2 separate regions of the Homo sapiens genome follow, and region 2 is linked to region 1. Evidence: fine-mapped expression QTL. A gene starts in region 1. The other region holds a variant in brackets. All regions are shown on one strand. Distances are between the middles of the regions.

The links.
Region 2: its variant is fine-mapped to the expression of TP53TG5 in putamen (GTEx, PIP above 0.99).

Annotation. Positions count from the first base shown.
Region 1 is chr20:45,376,546-45,379,557 of GRCh38, forward strand. It overlaps TP53TG5 (TP53 target 5), which reads right to left and starts at 1,780. Exons shown (of 5, transcript NM_014477.3): 1 at 1,644-1,780; 2 at 994-1,068; 3 at 667-797. The coding sequence starts at 1,691. The region is part of intron 3 of SYS1-DBNDD2 (SYS1-DBNDD2 readthrough (NMD candidate)); the gene reads left to right. It also overlaps a transcript of SYS1 not described here.
Region 2 is chr20:45,406,950-45,409,449 of GRCh38, forward strand. It overlaps DBNDD2 (dysbindin domain containing 2), which reads left to right and starts at 1,340. Exons shown (of 3, transcript NM_001048225.4): 1 at 1,340-1,657; 2 at 1,852-1,989. The coding sequence starts at 1,519. It overlaps SYS1-DBNDD2 (SYS1-DBNDD2 readthrough (NMD candidate)), which reads left to right. Exons shown (of 6, transcript NR_003189.2): 4 at 1,511-1,657; 5 at 1,852-1,989. It overlaps LOC107985404 (a long non-coding RNA gene), which reads right to left and starts at 940. Exons shown (of 5, transcript XR_007067608.1): 1 at 800-940. RefSeq lists an enhancer at 1-477. The variant C/T (reference allele first, on the strand shown) is at 1,276.

The DNA of each region.
Region 1 (3,012 bases):
ATATTTAACCTCTCAGAGCCTTAGCTTCCTTATCTGTAAAACTAGGATAATTCTGTCTACCTAACAGGATTGTTGTGAAGAATAAACTAAATGGGAAAATTCTTAAGTGCTTAACACTGTAGGATGGTACTTAGCAGGCACCAATCAATGTTAGCTTTCTTAATACTGTCATGTGACTTATGAGGAAACGGTTTGAACTTGTCTCGGAGGCATGGTAAAAAAAAATAAAAATAAAAATAAATTAATAAAGAAACCAAGCCTCAGCAAGATTAATCTTCAGATTTCAGGGGTCAGTCTGCAGGTGACTCTCTGGGTTATATTGACTTGCAGGGGAGGAGGAGGAGGAGTAACCTGTCTGTCTCAGTGCCCCAGGGTGAAGTGAGCACCACAACTGGATGATTACAACCATTGTTATGGCCACAGCTCTAATATCAGACAGGAATGGCTTCACATCCTAGCTCTGCCACTTATCAGTTGAGTTAACTGAATGAGACAAGTCACTTCACCTCTTCAGCCTCAGCTCTCCAGCAGTAAAATAGAGTTAATAAATACCTCTCTCACAGAGGCTTTGTGAAAATTAGACTTGTTCTCTAAATGCCTTAGCACAATGCCTGTTCCCAGAAAGACGGCATTTGGGTCCATTATGGGGGCCAGGCCCCAGCTTACCCAGAGGAGATGCGGAGAATCTTTGGAACACTGAGCAGTGAATGCCAACACCTTTTGGCCAGCTTATGCAGTTCTTGGATCCGGCGGTTTGAGCTCTTGAGTAGCTTCAAGAGCGACAAGTTTTTTAACACCTGCCAGGGTCAAGAAACCAGGTAAATAGAAGCTTCAGCTTTCCTGGACAGCCTCCCTCTCCCCTGCCTGCCTCTGGCTCCGCTCAGCCAAGGGCCGGCCTGCTGGCTCCCCTGGGCCACTCAGCCTGGCAACCAGGGGCAGTACTGCATGAGTATATGAGCTTCCCCAAGCTGGGGCCAAAACAGGGCGTCTCACCGTTCTCAGACGGTTCCGCTCAATTACTTTGCTCACAGGCTGCTCTGTCTCGTCCCGCAGTTTCTCATCTTGCATCTGAGGGACAGAGGATAAGAGAGACATAAACCCAGAGGAATCAGCCAGGTGTGGTGCCTCATGTCTGTAATCCCAGCACTTTGGGAGGCCGAGGTGGGTGGCTCATTTGAGGTCAGGAGTTTGAGATGCCTGGCCAACATGGTGAAACCCTGACTCTACCAAAAAAAAAAATACAAAAATTAGCGAGGTGTGGTGGCATGCGCCTGTAGTCCCAGCTACTCAAGAGGGTGAGGCAGGAGAATCACTTGAACCCAGGAGGTGAAGGCTGCAGTCAGCTGAGATCTCGCCACTGCACTCCAGCCTGGGCGACAGAGTGAGGCACTGGAGGAATCCTCCTGAACTCCTCCATGTGCCTCTTCATTTGGCTGAGCATGGTTTGACCAATCCTAGGCTGGGAGTTTTGTCATCTTGGTCTGGGGACAGAACTGGGAGACCATTTTAACTCTCCTGACCTCCCTTCACCCTTCACCTTTTCCTTTTCTCCCATGCTGGAAAGCCCCTTTCCTTGGCATGGTGGATTCTTTGTTAAGGTCCCCTCTAGGGACTCACCCCCAGGGTCTAGTCCCAAGTCTGACCTTGGAAACCCTGCTGTTCTTGGGCCTCTTCTTTGCTGATGGACTCATGCTGGGGCTGTGAGACCTCAGAGATGAATGGAGCAACACCAGTGCCAGGCACCAACCCTGTTCCTCTCAGTTCAGCCAGCACTCAGGCTGGGCATCAGATGGTGGTGCTGGCTCTGTACCACCTGCAGCTGTGACATCACTGAAATGTGACAGTAGCAGGGCTGGGTCTCCAAGGAGTGTATGTGGCAGAGGTGAGGGGTAGAGGGTGAGAAAGAAATATAGACAATAGGCGACAGACAGCTGTGTGCATTGTCACAACCTCCCTGTGGGGTAAGAGGATTATCCCCTCTTTTTAAATGAGGAAGCCAGGGTTCAAAGAGGTTGAATAATCTACTCAAGGCCACACTAGATCTAGCCCAGCTAGATCATAGTGGGCTGGAAACCTAACCAAGGTCTGATAGTCAACCCATGAAACCAGGGATTCCCAAACCATGCTCATCCATTCAGTCATGTCGCCTGTTTTGACTGGGCGCCTGCTACATGCCAGGTGCTTTTTCTTTTCTTTCTCTTTTTTTGTTTTTTGTTTTTTGAGACAGAGTCTCACTCTGTCGCCAGGCTGGAGTGCAGTGGTGAGATCTTGGCTCCCTGCAACCTCCGCCTCCTGGGTTCAAGCGATTTTCCTGCCTCAGCCTCCCAAGTAGCTGAGACTACAGGCACCCGCCACCACGTCCGGCTAATTTTTGTATTTTTAGTAGAGATGGGGTTTCACCATGTTAGCAAGGATGGTCTCGATCTCTTGACTTTGTGATCCGCCCACCTCCACCTCCCACAGTGCTGGGATTACAGGCATGAGTCAGCGCGCCTGGCCTTGCCAGGTGCTTTTTCTAAGTGCTAGAATAACAGAAAATTCTTGCCCTCAAGCTTACATTCTAGTGGAGGGGAAACAGTGTGTGTACTTGTAAATGTTTAATAATTGGCTCTCTGAAGCAAAATGTATATGTGTTTGTATTATAAATTTTACTGATAGAAATCAACAAATAATAGAATCCTATAATACTCTTTATTGTAACTTCTATTAGTGAGTTGCTTCTTATAGTATGCTTTTCTTGGATTTTGCCTAACCCCTCCATTTATAGCCAACCTATGGTTGTAATGGATAAACAAGTATAATACCAACATTAATGTTTGTATTTTCATTTACACTAAACAGTAAGAAGAAGGTGAAAAAGTGAAACAACAGAGATATTGAAATTTAACTCATTTATCAATGATTTCATTGACCTATTTGCTGAATTAGACCATAGTTTTTGAATACTGGAGATATATTTCTCAGATTCTTTTTGTTATTTACAATCGAATAGCTATGGGCAGGACACTTGCT
Region 2 (2,500 bases), 30 kb after region 1:
GCAGCCTCCTGCCCCCAAATCTCTTCACCCCCTTTCCAGTACCTATAGGTCGCGTAAACAACTCCCTTTCTCCAGCTCTGGGCTCCGCGGCCCCCCGGGGGACAGCTCCTTCAGTCTCGTGAGATCGGTGGGGTTAGGGGGAGGGGAAAAGAGAGGGGGTGTCCCAGAGCCCCTGGCCCCCGTCAGCTCCCCCACCTTGGCCTCTCCCTCCCCCTCCTCGCTGCTGGAGCACAGGCTCCAGGGGCCCTGGGTATTTTTAGCGTTGTGACCTGGGCGGCAGCTCTAAGAGCCTTTCCCGGGAATCGGCGTCAGCGCCTCGCTCCTCCGCCGCCAGCCCGCGGCCGCACGGTCTCCCCAGACTTCCGTGGCCCTGCCTTGGCCAGTCGGGGTTGGGTCCCTCTCCACCTCTGTGGCGCCCGTGGAGCTGGCCAGGGTCTGGGATACGCTGGGTGCAGATGAGGTGGGGAAGGCAGTCTGCGGAGGATGACGTCTGATCCTCAAGCTAGAAACTCCCTTGCCTCTGGTGATGGGCTCAGAGCAGAACGCCGGGAAGGAGATGAGCGAATGGGAATGAATGCACCGACCTGGGCTGGCCCATAGCCTCAGTGCTCTGGCAGGGTCTCAGCTTCTCAGCCCTAGGGGTCAGGAGGCCTGCTCTGAACTGGACCCAGAACCCGCCTTTCCAATTGCTCCTCACTGACTAATGGGGAGATAAGTCAGTGAGATGTGTCCCAGGAGGGGGACGCATAAAGAGCTGTTGGAGTTCAAAGGAAAGATGGTAGTCTCCTAAATAGCTCACCTTCACAAGCAGGGTCTTGTATTTGAGGCAGGTAGGTTGGTTATGCCATTTTCAGATGGGGAGACTAAGACCAGAAAGGTGATTTCCTTAGGGGCAGAGCCTAGTCTGGAAGTCAGGCCTGTGACTTCAGAGCAAGGGTTTGGGGTAGATGGCACATGCGTGTGTACGTGTTTGTGTGGGTGGAGAGAAAAGGAGGGGCGCGGGAGGAGTTGCTTTAGCCTTTGTCTGGGTTTTGAAGGATGGGAAGGGGTGGGCTGCAGCACTGGAGGAAGGGAACCCTCCACCCTGAGATCTCTGTCTCTATCCTATCCTGTCCCTGGCCTTCTGAGGCAAGCGGGGCCAATTAAGGGGAAAACGTACCTCCTCCATTTGTGCTGAACCAATCCCTCCAACCCCTCTCAGGAGGGCATGATATGGAGAGTTGGGCATTGGCTGTGTTCCCTGAATACAGAGTATCTCTCTTGTGGTGCCTGGAA[C/T]TGGCATCCCCTTTGTGGAGCTTAGGGCAAGCCCCGCCTCTGCATGAGACTTGGTTTGTGGGACACACTTGGTTTCAGGGAAGGGGAAAGAGGTCACCAAGGGCAGAGGTGTCCAGGCCGGAGCCAGGGGCCCCACTGTTGGGATGCTGGCTGCAGTGGGGCGCCCCAAGCCCAGGTCCCCTCTGTCTTCTCTTTCGACTTTGCAGCTGTACTTGTTTTGCTCCTCTACCCGCAGGAGCTGACATGGACCCAAATCCTCGGGCCGCCCTGGAGCGCCAGCAGCTCCGCCTTCGGGAGCGGCAAAAATTCTTCGAGGACATTTTACAGCCAGAGACAGAGTTTGTCTTTCCTCTGTCCCATCTGCATCTCGAGTCGCAGAGACGTAAGTCCCAAGTCCTGAGAAGAGGGACTGGGGTAGGGTAGGGAGGATGTCCTGTGGGTCCTGAATCTTGTGGCACTCTCTCCCCTCTGGTTTTCTTGGCCCTCTATGCTTCTAACTTGGGACCTGACATGTAACTCTCACTGTCCTGGTGTGCAGCTTGGGTCCTCCTGACTTGCCCACTTCTTGATCCGCAGCCCCCATAGGTAGTATCTCATCCATGGAAGTGAATGTGGACACACTGGAGCAAGTAGAACTTATTGACCTTGGGGACCCGGATGCAGCAGATGTGTTCTTGCCTTGCGAAGATCCTCCACCAACCCCCCAGTCGTCTGGTATGCCCCTCTGCTTTGGGGACTTCAGTGCCAGTCAGCCAGAGCCGGATGTCAGGCTCTGAAACGAGGCTACAAGGCTGGGCTGGGGAAGTACACAAGTAAGGGCTGGAAGTGGGTGTTTCTACCAATGAAACAGCTGCCTGTTCTGATTTTAGGGAAGTTGACCCTGAGGGAGAACTGGGTTACACATCTCTAATCCAAAATTCTGGGAACGGTCAATCTCTTCTTTAATTTTACATTTGTTATATTAATATAATTAGTCACTATAATTAAAATAATGTAAAATTGTAATTTTTATATTTGGCAACTTAAGTAGTTTTAGTCATTATAATGATATTAATATGTATTGAGTACTTTAGTAGGTTCCAATACTGTACTAAAGTACTTTACATATATTATCTCAATCCTTACAACGTCCTGTCAGGGTAGGTGATATAATCTCTATTTTATAAGCAGGAAATTAGGCTCAGAGAAGTTAAGTCACATTGTAGCCAGAAGGTAGATAAACTGG